2 linked regions of the Homo sapiens genome follow. The protein of the gene in region 1 interacts with the protein of each later gene in a pairwise test. Each region holds a gene or a part of one and is shown on either strand. Other genes may lie near its edges.

Region 1 (8,677 bases):
TATAAAATCCCTTCATATTCCTGGAGTTTAACATAGCACTAGCCTTTCCTGATAAAAATATTTTTGAAAACTACTTTTTCAGTCAAAATATACAGGTATTAATTGCTGGTTGCTTATTTATTTCTGTCACTTGGTTTTGTTACTAGTTTTGACCTTTTCTTTTTGAAGGCTTTTTTCTCCTTTCCTACAGTGAAACAAAACTTGACAAAACTGGTTTTGTTCAATTCCCTTTGGAAGAACAGCTTTATCTGTGAAGTAATCAACAGTGTTCAGCCCTGAGAATGAAGCAAGAAACTGCTTTCACTGTTCTGTATATCAATGATAATATTTTGATGATTTGTTTAGGACACAGTAGATTTCTGTTTTTTCATTTTGGGACAAATTTATATACATAAAATGCATTTGAATAATTCAGTGTTACTTTGATCAGCAATGTGCTGCGGAAACACCCTTCACACCAAATTTCAAGAACACTTATTTGCATCAGCTTATTCTCTTTAAATGATTAAATTAACAGATTAGTGAGGTCTGCTGTCACTTGAACATTTGCAGATTTTTGTTTTAAGCATTTTTCTTACACCAGTGTCATTGCATTTTGTTTTTAAATTGTAAAGTATATCTTTATTTTTCCACTCAGAAGTTCCTGTCTGTTGGTTTGTAACTGAGATTGCCTTGTTGTTGGCTTTTCCTGTACATAAGAAACATCTCACTATTTTAGACTAAATATATATTTAAACACCTTTCAATTAGAAAAAAATAATTTCCAGTTTATCTTTTTGTTGTTTGAATACCGTTTTAAACATTTAAGTAAATTAAATTTCTCTTCTTTTGACGGTTATATCTTTCCTTTGTAGACTAAGAAAAATGGCTTTGTCAGCCCAACAGATACCCAGATGGTTTAACTCAGTTAAGTTGAGGAGCCTCATTAATGCTGCACAACTCACAAAACGTTTTACTAGACCAGCAAGAACACTGTTACATGGCTTTTCTGCTCAGCCTCAGATATCCTCTGACAATTGCTTTCTCCAGTGGGGATTTAAGACTTACAGGACTTCCTCCTTATGGAATAGTTCCCAGTCTACTAGCTCAAGTAGTCAGGAGAATAATTCTGCCCAAAGCAGTCTGCTTCCTTCCATGAATGAACAGTCACAGAAGACACAAAATATATCCAGCTTTGATTCTGAGCTGTTTCTAGAAGGTAATTCTGAACTTTCAGAAAAGTCTCCCTTTCCCTACTTTGGCCATTTGAACAAGCTACCTGTTTACCTTCTGCTAGCCCATTTCAGGTAATATTTTGTGCCAAGAAAGAAAAAGAATAATACCAGTTCTATTGATGAACTTCTATCATGCCTTTATTTTACTGGTAAGAAAAAAAGTTTGTGGGCTAACGTGTAAGATTATTTTATAGCTACACATATAAAACATTTGCTTTTTAAATATTTTATTGTTTAGATTCTTAAAACAAAATTCTTCTAGTGGTAATTAGTTTTATTAGGGTATAATTATATCAAGTAAAATTCATCTTGTGGGATATATAGTTCTATGAATTTTGACATATGCATTTAGTGTGTAAGAACTACTGCAATCAACAAATAAAACAATTATATTAACTCCACAGAGTTCCCTCATGGTCGCTTTTTAGTCAATCCTCTCCTTCCTATGGGTCCTATTCTAGGAATATTTCGCTGGTAATGAAATGATATAAGGTTAAGTAGAATATGAAGGAAAGAGAGCTGGGGAGAGGGCAGGGAGGAGATGCTGGCTATAAATGATGAGAAAGGATAGTTAATGATGAGAAGCACAAAACAGAACAAAAGATCACAGACCTGATTCCTTAGCTTAAGGTAATGTGTAGTTCTAAGTGTCTTCCATGCTGCGTTTGATTTTAAAAAAACAAAAACAACTTCAGAATCAGGGCTGTACTAGAGAGTCACATCTCCTGTAGAGAGGACTGCAGGTTGTAGAAACAATCATAGAAGCCCTTTTAAAGATGTATTTGAGGGTAACTTGGAAGGGAGGGCATTGGGTCAAAACAAAGACTTTCGGGATATGATTACTTTAATCCATGCAATTCAGACTGTTGGCATATGTGTACTTTTAGCCAAGTTAACAGGCTATGGTAAACTCAATCTCTGTTTCAAAATTCACTTGAAAGTTAGGTGATTTTTAGCATTCTCACCTACTGATTAAGTGAAGGAAAGGCATTGTGTGCTTTGAAATTTACCAACAAATTTCTAATCTCAGAGGAACAGTAGTTAGTCTGTCTAAATAGTTGTAACCTTACCTCTTAAAAGGTGAAAAATTAGGGACTTGGATGTTTAATTCTAAAATGATCCCAAGATTTAACCACTGAAAGAAGCAAACAAGGGAAGAGCTGGTCTTTGCAGAAATAGTTTTAAGTGTGCATATTAGAGCACTAATTTGTTTCTCTCTTTCAAAGAACTGGATGAATTGCCTCCATTGTCTCCAATGCAGCCAATTTCAGAGGAAGAGGCTATTCAGATTATTGCAGACCCTCCATTGCCACCAGCTTCATTCACACTTCGAGACTATGTGGATCATTCTGAGACTCTGCAGAAGTTGGTTCTTCTAGGTAAGTTTGACTAAACTACAAGTACTTTTTGCATGTACTCTTCATTACTTTTTTTACTTTTTTAAATTAACAATTTAATCTATACTAAGTAGTATACAAACATAAGCAAAAGTCTAATAGCATAAAGGCTTCTAGTGAGAAACCGTATTCCCTGCCTCATCCTTGGTGATCTTGCATCCTATTCCCCAGATGCATCTACTTAACTTGTATCATTCTTTCTGTTTGTGTTCAACCTCCTCATTTTAAAATAGTTGTTTGTAGTGCTGTTGTTTGGTTCATCAGTTTTAGACATCATTTGATCTCTTGTATGTACACATGTACTTTTCCTGTATTCTTTTCAATTCTCCTAATATAAATTACAATTTTAGATAAATCATTAGTCAGTAGTTAAATTATGACTATAAATATTGCTATCTGCCCTAACAAGAAGTATGCTATCATTATTTACCTTCCTGTACAACTTTTCATTTTTCCGGCAGTAATAGTTGCCTTGTTCTTCATTTGATGAATTGTTTTGTTTGTTTGTTTGTTTCTGGGGTTAAACTTTTCCATACCTTCCAGTAGCCTCTCAGGACAGTTTTTCCCAGGTAACCCTATCAGATGATGTATTTCATTTCTCCAGAGTGGATTGTTCCCTGCTTGTCACACTACCCCGACCTCCTTCCTGAAGCCACTGTCCTCCTGATTTGAATGGTTTCTAGGCCTACTCTATAGCTGCCTTCACTTGTTGACCATTAGGTTGCACTTGGATCTGGATAGCTTAAGGGAGCCAGGGGATCTCCGTCCAAACTTTCATTTAGTCATCTTATTTTTAGTCTGGCATTTTATTACAAACTTTTGCTTTCCTCATTTCTCTGGGTTTGGTACTTCTCATACTTGATTTTCCCAGATAATGAATCTCCTTTCTCCTAGTGCATTGAGAGGAACTGGATTTGGGGGAGGTCGGGTCTCTCCATACCCAATACCCCAGTTTTTAGTCTGTACCTCACCTCTAATCTCTCAGATTTCTAGGGACTCCAATTTTGGAGACTTTTGAGTTTTTTGTGGTACTGATCACTTACCACTTGCCAGATTCTCATTTGCAGGCATTTCAGTGTCGTCTTTCTCCTCTCCGATAAGGCTGTTGCCATGCTTTCATCTGTTTTCAGATGTTTTCAGATATGTGGGGATATAATCTCGTTTCCTCAAAGAAGGATCTCATTTTTTGTTTGTCATTCCCCATATTTTTGGGAGGTGATTTTTAACAGGAGAGGAAAAAGAGAAAAATCTGTGCTCTGTTAGAAACTTTGGGGGTCATCCTTGATTTTTTTTTTTTTTTTTTTCTTCAGACTGGGTCTCACTCTGTCTCCCAGGCTGGAGTACAGTGGTACCATCTCAGCTCACTGCAACCTGCCTCCCAGGTTCAAGTGATTCTCCTGCCTCAGCCTCCCTGGTAGCTGAGATTACAAGCACGTGCCACCATGCCTGGCTATTTTTTGTATTTTTAGTAGAGACGAGGTTTCACCCTGTTGGCCAGGCTGATCTTGAACTCTTGGCCTCAAGGGATCTGTCCACCTCGGCCTCCCAAAGTACTGAGATTATAGGCATGAGCCACCGCACTCGGCCTATCCTTGATTCTTATTGCTTTTGTCCCCTTCCTCTTTACATCTAATTTAATAGCTTATCCTATGGATTCTACCCTCTCTATTTCTTTCAAATCCATCCACTTCTCTCATCCTACAGTCACTACCTTGTTTAGGTCCTCATTTGTCACTGAGTGGCTGCAGGAGCCTCCTATCTTGATAGTCTTCTCCTCAGCAGTATTGGCTCTGATATCTTTCCAGTGTTAGTGCTCTTTCTGAAATGCAGATCTAAGTCAGTGACCTATTTAAAATCCTTCAAAACCTTCCCATGGCATCAAAGCTTTTCCTGATTTGGCTTCTGCTTACCTGTTCAGCTTCATGGCTTGCCACTTCCCTCCTTTGTTTAGCCAACTCCAACAACTGGAGAACATCACTGAAGTCCAAGTAACTTCTAAAGTGTCTTCTTGACCCTGCAGACAGAGTGACCCTCTTCAGGCTCTCATTTCACTCCCTGCTTACTTGGATCCTAGCATTAATGACACTCTATTATAATTGTATACTCATCTGTCTGTGCCCAGTTACCCATATGTTACCCATATGTTTAGAATGGCCTTTGTTCTCAAGAAGCTTCAAGTCCTCAGAAACATCTAAATATATAAGAATAACTGGAATGCAAGGATGAAGAGCAAAGTGATAAGTCCCACATGAGAGGCAAATAAAGTGTTCTGTGAATCAGCCTAAGTGTCCATCAGTGGATGAATGGCTAAAGAAAATGTGGTATATTTATACACTGGAGTACTAGTCAGCCTTGAAAAAGGAGATCCTGTTATTTGCAACAACACGGATGAACCTGGAGGATGCTATGCTAAGTGAAATAAGCACAGAATGACTAATGCTACGTGATCTCACTTATATATGAAAGCTAAAAAAGTTGAACTCATAGGAGCAGAGGGAGCTGGGGAGTGGGGTGGGGAGGAATGGGGAGTTGTTGGGCAAAGGGTACAAAGTTTCAATTAGACAGGTGGCATAAGTTTTGGAGATCTATTGTCCAGCATGATGATGGTAGTTAATAATAATGTATACTTGAAAATTGTTAAGAGAGTAGATTTTAAGTGTTCTCACCACAAAAAAAAGTCATGAATATGTAAGGTAATGAATATGTTAATTAGCTTGATTTAATCGTTCCACTATGTATACAAATGTCAAAACAGCATGTTGTATCCCATAAACATATAATTTAAAAAGTGTACATTCAGAGGCAGGAAAAAGATGATGTCTGCTGTGAGGAGACAGTCACTTTTCCTTTCGAAACAGCTTTCCCTGTCTTATGGCAGGTGCTATGGATGATACAAGATAAAACCTAAGACACAGTCCCTGTCTTATCTTTTTTTTGACACAGGGTCTTGCTCTGTCACCCAGGCTGGAGTGCAGTGACACAGTCTTGTCTCATTGCAGCCTTGACCTCCTGGGCTCAAGTGATCCTCCCACCTCAGCCCCGCAAGTAGCTGGGACTATAGGCACATGCCATCTGGGCTAATTTTTTTTTTTTTTTTTTTAAATAGAGGGAGGTCTCACTGTGTTGCCCAGGCTGGTCTCAAACTCTTGGGCTCAAGCTTTCCTCCCACCTCGGCTTTCCAAAGTGCTGGGATAACAGGCATGAGCCACCGTGCCTGGCCTAGTCCTTATCTTTAAATAATTTACAGTATACTTACAGGTTTGGAATATGTTTCAGCCATTCCTTTACCTGTATGCTGATACTTCAACAGCATGTCTTAGAAGTAACTTAAATAATAGTAACTTAGGGGAGCCTTATTTGCTCTGTCAGACAGTATTTTTGAGTACCCAAGTCCTAGTTTTTTCTCTGTTTGCTTCTGAGACCTGTTTTCTGCCCGATCTGTATCCCAGGAGGCCAACCCCTATGCACCAGGGCTCCTATGCCAGCTGGCTTCTTGGCAGCTTCAGCCAGTGGGAGGCACCTACAGGACAGAAGGTAGAAGGGTCAGGTGGGGATATTTTTCCCGTTCCTTCCCTTCTTTGGGTCCTGTACCTGCCTCACTCCATGACAACAGCACTCTTGAGCAGCCCTTCCTTAATAGCCTCTAGTCCCTCTGCGCCGTGGTAACATTTTGCCTCCTTGTCTCTTTATTGTTGGGAAGGCTCTTGTTTGTTCTCTTAAGGCTGCTCACACCGCTGTATAGAGTCCCTTCATTAAAGTCCTTGTCATTTGTACTTTCCAGGGCACGTTGTATAGCCTGCTAGACCCTGATTGATGTACTAAATACGTGTAACCATAACTGAATAAAATGGTAATATTCGTAATTACTGAACTGATGAGGTAAAGCCCAACTAGACTGGTCACCTAGAGGTTAGAATCGTGTATTATTCTTTTTTTATAACCCCAATACCTAAAAAAGTGCCTGGTCCATAGTGGGCATTCAGGGAATATTTTTTCAAGTTAATGAAATGAAGTGAGCCCAAGTTATTTGCATTGAGAGCAGTGTGCATTCCTGATGAGATTCTGCTCTCCTACTGCTGTTAAAAAGCAGCTTTTCAGGATTTCTGTTCGAGCACAGTCAGGGTGTGACAGCTCATGCTGAGCAAAGCACTTCAGTTCATGTCAGCTGTAATATTTAGTTAAATGTGAAGTCTGAACCCTTTATGTTATTTTTAGAGCATCCGCTCCCCCATTTATCACAGATTTTTGGAACTGGTTTTCATCTTATTTATTTGTCCATCTAATAATTGGATTTATTTTTCTACTAATATTATTTTTAAATTACAAAAGAATTACATCCGGTTGTCAAAAGTGCAGATATTATAAGAGAAGGACCTCTTACCCTCTCTTCGTCCCCAGTTCCACTTCTCAAAGGTAACCACTATTAACCAAATTGTGGAATAGCTTTCCAGACCTTTTTCTACACTAGGTTTTATACTATTCTGTAGTTAAACGTAATTTTTTTTGTTTTTCTAGTAGAGTTAATGTATGTTTAGATTCTTTATCTAGAATTAATTTCCGTATAAGATATAAAGATAATTTTTTTCAAAAGTATAGCTAATGGTCCCATATATTTTAACAAATAGTCTATCTATTTGATTTGAAATGCATTATTGTTTGTATAATAACATTTTTTAGTTTATTCTGGATCTGTTTCTCATCTTCATTGAGTGTGCGTATTATTCTGTTTTCACACTGCTGATAAAGACATACCCGAGACTGGGCAATTTACAAAAGGAAGAGGTTTAATGGACTTACAGTTCCATATGGCTGGGGAGGCCTCACAATTATGGCAGAAGGTGAAAGGCACGTCTCACGTGGCAGCAGCCAAGAGAAGGGAGCTTGTGCCTGGAAACCCCCCTTTTTAAAACCATCAGATCTCGTGAGACTTATTCAGTATCACACAACAGCACAGCAAAGACTTCTCCCCATGATTCAGTTACCTCCCACCTGGTCCCTCCCACGACACATGGGGATTCAAGATGAGATTTGGGTGGGGACACAGCCTAACCATATCATTGTGTCTGTGTATTTAATCTATTTTACTGTTCATGGGCATCTTAATACCTGTTTAATATCAAGAAATTTGGATTTATAATTATATTTGGTTCTAATAATATTTGGAGTTATAATGAATATGACGATTTTTTTTTGACTGTGTGATGCCATTAAGAAGTTTTAAATGTGGAGGTTTAAGGTTGTATACTTTCTGCTTTGTTGTATACTTGAAGGGCTATGTGTTCACTTGTTCTCACTCAGACATTTCTTGAGTTTCTTCAAGGGACGTGTCTCCGTGCTAAAGACCTAGAGATTACAACGATGAGTAAGGCACAGGGTCATTTTTATTCCCCCTATGATGGGAATCATAAACATATTTTTTAAATAATGCTTATAACTAAGGAAAAATAAAATCTTCAAAGAAGGTAACATTTTATTCATATTGTTTGTTACCCTGCAGAATTACCAGTTACTGTGGGGTTCATCTGGGACTGACAAACATTCTGAAACAATATTCAAGAAACCTTAGACAAAGATGATGACCCTACACCAATATGACTTAGTGAATTTGTTTTGGGGGGAAATGTAGCACTAAATGCTCTATTTTCCTCTGTACTTGATTTTTAAAATAAATACTATGTTGTTTCTGCAACCAACTTAGTTTAAAAATATTTAGAAGTTTCTATTGATCTATCTCAGTGCTCCTTTGGATAGGTGTTGATCTCCATCAGTAATTTCTTGTGCTTATGTATATGAGTTTAATGGGTGAACTAAGAAGTCATCTTCAAACAGTATTTATAATTTATTATAGGCGTGGATTTGTCCAAGATAGAAAAACATCCAGAAGCAGCAAACCTCCTTCTGAGACTGGATTTTGAAAAAGACATTAAGCAAATGCTTCTGTTTCTTAAAGATGTGGGTATAGAGGATAACCAACTGGGAGCATTCCTGACAAAAAATCATGCAATTTTCTCTGAAGACCTTGAAAATCTGAAGACCAGGTAGGACTTTTAAAAGGATTCTCATATA
Region 2 (7,300 bases), on another chromosome or scaffold:
TTCTCCCCAAACCAGCCTATCCTCTCTTTTCTCTGTCTTCTTGAAACTACTTTCCCAAATGCAAGCTTGCTTTGAGAATCTTTGACTCATTCTTTTTCTTACCTCACAGTTACCAGTTCCTATCCAGGTTTGGAAAAAATACTGACTTGGATGCATTGGCCCTTCCCTAAGCCTGCTTTGATTGCATTCCAGTCAAGCTTCTAATTTAGATCCAGTCACAGTGCAGTGTAATTACCAGTATCTTTCTGTCCCCACTCTGCGAAGTTTGTGGGCATATAATTAATAAATGTTTGTTATTTCCTTCTTCAAATTTGTGTTAAAATAAGTGGCTGATGTTATGTATTGATGGACTCATAGTTTAATTATGCAGGTTTTAAGACATATACTGATAGAAAATTTTTGAACCCTACTCCTGAAAATAAATTCCAAGATTTGAGTGATTAATCAGTATGGAGAAACAATTCCCAGAAGTGTTTCTTTGTGCATTCTTTAGGACTTGACCATACACAAAAAGTTAAATTGTATACAGAGTGCATAGCGGCAATATGTTGAAGGACATAAGTAGTGCTTGGTACATTAAATGATAAAATGATCTCATTTGATTATAACAGGGCCTGTGGTGTATATGTAGATAAAATGGAAATAGATAAGGTACTGTTCTCTCTGAATAGTCTGGGGTAATAAATTAATGTATTGTTTCTTGTTATTATGTTTAAACCATTTCATTGTAATGCTGTAATAATTTCACTTGACTAATTGGGTGCAGAGGAAAATACAACTTTTTGAAGTTGGCTAAGAAGTTCTTTATTTTTGGTTTAAATTAGCATAATTATCTCTTCTGCTTGGAGAAGAAAAGGAAAACCTATATTAAGAAAATGTTTAAATACAATTATTGTGTGTCAGTTTGGTGGCTAATATTCTTGATCTTAGGAATCATGACTACAATCTAGTATTTTTATGTTTGATTAATGTTGAGATTAAGAGCTGCTGGAAATGAATGCGTAGGTTGCTACTTACCTTCTCCCACTTTTTTGTGCCTCTGTAGGTACATGGACTATATCGCACAACAGGTGCTAGTTTTGAGAAGGCCCAACAGGAGTTTGCAACAGGTGTGATGTCCAACAAAACTGTCCAGACCGCAGCTGCAAATGCAGCTTCAACTGCAGCATCTAGTGCAGCTCAGAATGCTTTCAAGGGTAACCAGATTTAAGAATCTTCAAACAATACACTGTTACCTTTTGACTGTACCTTTTTCTCCAGTTACTGTATTCTACAAATATTTTTATGTTCAAAACACACAGTACAGACAGCATGGATATTTCCTGTTCACTTGTGCATGGGCTAAAACCAGGAAAACTTCCTTGTCTTATTACTTTACCTAATAGTTTCTTAATATTTCAGTGCCCCTTGCAGAAAAAATATTACATGCTAAATAAATATTCTCCATATTTTTGGGGGATGACATTCAGTGAATTATTTCAGTGGTGACCCACTGAAAATTAATAATGGTACTTATGATTAAAAACGCATTTAATACTAACTGCAGTAGTTCTTTCAAGAATCTTTAGAGATAAGGATTGCACATTGGAAAAGTAAACCATGTTTCATTCCTTTTTCCCTATTTATATTGAAAGAAATAGGCCAGCAGAGACTTAGGGATTTTAAATTGGCTTGCTTTTTAGCTGTTTCAGTCACCAGTGAAGAGCCTATGTGCATTTTGTAGTAGATAATGTAAAATTTGTCATCTTTTTCTTTTCTTTTTTTTAGAATAGCTGATATTTTGATAACAATCTCTAATTTGCATGGGCACCACATTTCTTATATTAAAAGAATTAGTGTTTTGGCTTCTGTACTGCTTATGGTTGTAGGATTCAGGGGTTAATGGAATCACAGAAATGATATTCTGCAAGAATTTCTTTTAAATAAAAAGTTTGGGGGTGCAATATAAGAAGTTTATATAATATGCAGTACATTATCCAAAAGAGAAGGTAGTTAATGCAGTAGAAAGTAGTGGTAATAATTCCTTTTTAAAAAAATTTCGGTAGTCATATAGTAACATTTTGCTATATGAAAACTTTGGTATATTCTGTGGTTACAACTAAGATTGTGTCTGGCAGCTCTTTTTTGGGGATGTGTGTGTGTGATTTTTAACAGAGGTATTAAAGGCTAGCCTAACTGTTGTCTAAAAAGATTGTACAGTATTTAAGGGATTTTCCTTTTAGCTTTTCATCTCCAGTGGCATTAAACATAAAAAGACCCTGGCATTTTTTCACATACTTGAATCCCTAAATGCACCTGTCTTTCACTTTTTGAGACAGACTGAATATATCTAAAATTTCCAGCAATAAAAAAAAAAGCATTTAACTTGCACCAAGCAAGAAAATATAAATACAGTTAACTGCATTAAGATAATCACGTTAAAATTGTTACTATGCAGCACAGAACTTCATTCTTATAGTATTCTTGGGTTCAACCTTTGAATCAATTTTACCACTGATTAAATAAATGACTCAAAGACATCTGTAAGTCATGCTGCTGTGTTTTGAAAGTCTTTAACTAAATTAAGATTGCAGAATGATAGTGATTATTCAATTAGATTTTAAGTAAGGATTGTGATATTAGAGGCTGGAAATCCTTATTTTTTAAAAAATCAGATAGGCATAAATAGTTAAATCACTTTCATTCTCCCCAAACCTGTAGTTACAGAAAAAGTTTTATGCTAGAGGTGGGATGCCAAGTTTTCACTATCCATGAAGCAGCGCTGCATGTCACTAGGTAACACAGATCCATCCAGATGGTGTTTACATTTGATTTATTTGGGATCTTATTGACATCAGGTATACTTGGAAGACATTTCTTTTATTCTTCAGCGTATGAATTTAAAGCTATTTTTTGTAAATATTTCTAATCAGCGATAATTTCTACCTATGTTCTCAACCAACTTAGCCAGTTTGTTTTTCAGAGCCTGTAGTCTTATTGGAAATCTATTTTATCAGTGTGCTTTATTGAGTGTGGATTTTGCATACATTCAAAACATTAACCACAAAATACAGCAAGTGCACCTATATTCACCATTAACTTATATCCCAAGTCCATTTTTTCCTGTACACTACAAACAAAAGATATATTAGAGACTTTTGAAAAATGCTGAAATACTTTGCTTCAGAATTGGAATGTTTATATTATGTAGAAATCTTCAAAGGTAGCATTATTAAATAGCAAAGAATAATTAGAACCCACATATCTTTTTTTGTGTGGATGGGGAAAATGTTTTAAAATCCAGTTATTTAATATGAGTTTGAGAGAGAAAATTGTTTTTTAAAAATATATGTGCATTGAAATGATGGCAATGCTTATAGTATGATCAAGTATGAAAGGAACTTTAAATTCTTATATTTACTTTTCTCTCAGTAAATTGTTAAATTTTCACTCAGCAAAAGATTGGCATTTGTTAAGTGTTCTATATTTAGTACTAAAATCACAGTCATGAAATCATAGTCATAAAATGGTCTTCACACAGCAGTCATCCGTGTCATTTATCATTTTGTAATATTAAATTATGGCAATTTTATTTCAAACTAAAGTTTGAACACCGGAAAGTCATTACTCAGTGATTTGTAATTTGGGACTTGGATTATTTATCTAGAGATGTTTGTATATTTTGTCAGTAACTAATACTGCGCTGCCATCATGGTGACTGTCATGGTTCTACAGAAATGCCCTCCATGTGTCCCTCTAATGTTGCATGTTTCAGTGGGTTGGAAGTTTTGTATATTTATTGTATTAACACAGAGTGTCATAAAATAAAATGCTGTTTACTGGATGTTTGTTTGTATAATTTTGAACACTATAATAGCAATTCAGAGACAGACATTGTTAAAGGTTTGATGTATATAGAAATTCCATGTTTGATTTTTTAAAATATGTGTATAAGTCTGTCATGTGCTAAACAAAATAATATGAAAGACCTAGTTAAAAATTCTAACCAATGTAAAATGACCATTTTTCTGTTGCATTAGACCTTTACAGGTAATGGAACATGAGCTTCACCCATATTAAATATTTTGGCCCCTTTAAGGTCAAAATACAGATCATCTAGAAGTTAGATTCAAAATGGAAAACCTATTCATGGCTCAGATTTTTCATTGTGGGTTAAAAATGGGTGTCTCTGTACTAGTATTGTATTTATTCAATTGAACTTGTATTCTGATTTCTATCCTTGCTACCTATTGCTGTTTTATGTACTGATGAAAGTACCTATTTGTGTATATTGGATTTTTCACTTGGTTAGCTAAAGAAGATGTAAAAATATCTAAAATAATGTTCATGGTGAATCTTATTTTGAGAAATACATGTTAAAAAAGGAACAGTATTCTTTATTTTCTGGGTGTTATATTTAAAAAAGCAAGTTTGGATTTTTACACCTAATTTACTAGGAAAATATTTTATTCTGTAATTCATGTTAAGATTATGTATGGTTTGCATTTTAAGGGGATTTATGTTAGGTTAATTAGTTGTTTCTGTAAATCATTTGTAATAGCATAGTGCTTTTTACTCATTGCTGTATCTTTTTCTGAAAACACTGTTGTTAACATCTAATTCAGTATCCTTATTGGTACAAATCTGTGTTTGGCATGACTGTTTATATACAGAATTTGTTACATTTTGAGCATTTTTTCCCCTGCTTATGTATACCTTAGAGTTACCATGGCTGTCATATACCATTTCACTATATCTCCTTTCAGTTTTTCCTTAAGGAAAATGTTTAGAGGAATTTGTTCATTTCATGTGATTAAGCCCTTTAGAGATGAAATAAGATTGGTTAATTTTAAAAAAATTGAGGATGGTTAAAAAATAGAAAACACCTTACTTTGATACATTTTAAAGTACAATAGTATACATTTATTTAGAGTAGACTAATGTGTTTAAAACATGAGTTGTTTTAAATACTTTTTTATTGAGCTAAAAAGTTTTATCTCACATATTAAGTATTACAGAAAGTGAAGTATTTTGGCTAGAATTTTAGGGCATATTTTATAAAGCAGCATGCCTGTAATATTGGTGGGTATTTTTAAACTTTAGGACTTTATCACAGTATGTAGAGAGCTAGAAATAAATCTAGAAACTTTCTAAGCCAGGTATTGCCACTAACCTGTCTTATATAAGCAGATACCTCTTATTTGAAGATTGTAGGAAAATAGAGAAAGACTGTTCTCCAGTTTTCTCACCCCCGCTGTGGGTTTTATATTTACAATTTAACTTTGGGGTTTGGGTAAGACAAACATTTAATGTATAGGATTTTGGCCAGGTGTGGTGGCTCACGCCTGTAATCCCAGCACTTTGGGAGGCCAAGGTGGGCGGATCACGAGGTCAGGAGATCGAAACCATCCTGGCTAACATGGTGAAACCCCATCTCTACTAAAAATACAAAAAAAAAATTAGCTGAGCATGGTGGCGGGCGCCTGTAGTCCCAGCTACTTGGGAGGCTGAGGCAGGAGAATGACGTGAACCTGGGAGGCGGAGCTTGCAGTGAGCCGAGATCTCTCCACTGCACTCCAGCCTGGGCGACAGAGCGAGACTCCATCTCAAGAAAAAAAAAAAAGAATTTTCATTAGTGCTGGCCGTGTTTCAAATGGCAAGGGAACATGGGAACTATCATGTGGCAATGTAGTGAGTGTTAAACTTTGTGTTTGTCCAAATCCTGATTTATTTTTCAGTTCATATCTTTCTGGGCTTGACATGGCTGATGGTGTAGCTGAAACCCTCCTAACACTAAAAGCCATTTAATCTTTTCTGTAATAGGAGCAGAAAATAGTTAATCATCCACCTAGTAATATAAGATTACTGTGAATATTATCTTCTATACATTAAAACAGTTCTAGTTTGTAGAATAATACCATACAAGTTTTATTTTTAAATTCTAGTTATTTTCAGTGCTTACTTAAATGTAATTCTAGAATTCCTCCACAACTTTTAATATTTTGTATGCCAGTGATTCTCAAGATAAATCATGATTGTAGTAGTTGTTACTGTTGGCAGTTTGTAGTAGTATTCAGGTATTTTGGGGATGGGGGAAAACACCAAAAATCAGTGTCTTTTATCTGGTGATCACTGTGGTATCTACAGTATTCTAGTCTCCTGCACAAAAACTGAACCCACTGGGCCTATGCATCCCTCACACTTTTTTTCTAGTATAAAAGCAATACATAATGTGTTGTAGAACAATTAAAAATTCAGAAAGTGATACATGAGAAAATAAAAATAAATCCTTAATTCTGTCATCTTGGGGTACCTCTGCTAATATTTTATTGTCTTCCATTCTTTTTCTATGCATATGTGTTTTGTTTAGTTAAGAGATATAAGCAATATGGATTTTTAAAAACCTTATTTTCCCCTCACTTAGCTTTATGTCATAATGGCGCAATAGTTTAGTTTTTTAAATTAACTTTTTTAATTTATAAAATTAATGTATATTTCAGTATAAATTATAGAAAATATAAGCAAAAGAAATAACCAAAATTCTCATAATTTTACATCCATGAATAACTTCTATTAAAATCTGGTTTATATCTTTCTATTTTTCTAGGAAGACAACTTCCTAATATTAAAAATGAGATGACCCCGTACATCCTTGTACATCCTTTAGGGATGTCTACCTACTCCTCAAAAGCCCCACTTCTTTGGGTCCTTAAAGTCCACATTGGTACTGGATGTCATCTGGCCATAGTGGACTCATTCCTGGCTTATCAGTTTTTTATTCTGAATGTAGATATGTCTAGAACTCTACTGTTCCAGAATTGGAACATAAGAGGTAGCCATTTTCTGCCATGAGGAAGGAATCACCAAGAAAGCTGGTCTGCAATGAAAATGAAGAATGAAACAGACATAACAGGAGATGTAAAATGAATGACATAGAAAAGATCTTAGTGGCTTTCCTTTTCCTTTATGGAGCCCTACTTCTCACCCTTATCCCATTATCCTCATAATCTTACCGCTTTTTCTCCCTCAACTATCTTGAATTGGTTTCTTATTACTTTTAACTGGAGGATCTTAACACAACAGTTTATCTTATTTCAGTTATGATATAAATATGTATTGAAGATTTTAATATCTCTGAATATATTTCTGTAACATTTAGTATAGCTATATAGCTAACATCATATGTATGTATCATAAAGTCTTGTTATTCCTTTAGGTTCTGATTTTCAGGGTTTTAAAGTTATAAATAATTTATCAAGGAATATATTGTTGCTAAATTTGGGGACTCGGGCTTTTGTTTTTTCTTTAGGACAGATTGCTG

What was found.
Region 2: the proteins of MTERF3 (region 1) and SCAMP1 interact in binary tests that used the Homo sapiens proteins (3 or more experiments, as listed by UniProt).

What each region holds. Positions count from the first base shown.
Region 1 is NC_000008.11:96,250,878-96,259,554, reverse strand, and holds part of MTERF3 (transcription termination factor 3, mitochondrial isoform 1 precursor), read left to right. Parts: intron 1-854; 5' UTR 855-864; coding exon 865-1,198; exon of another isoform or gene 1,199-1,333; coding exon of another isoform or gene 1,334-1,363; intron 1,364-2,440; coding exon 2,441-2,593; intron 2,594-8,459; coding exon 8,460-8,649; intron 8,650-8,677.
Region 2 is NC_000005.10:78,474,459-78,481,758, forward strand, and holds the end of SCAMP1 (secretory carrier-associated membrane protein 1), read left to right. Parts: intron 1-1,045; coding exon 1,046-1,210; 3' UTR 1,211-6,281; downstream 6,282-7,300. UniProt on the Homo sapiens protein: Functions in post-Golgi recycling pathways. Acts as a recycling carrier to the cell surface.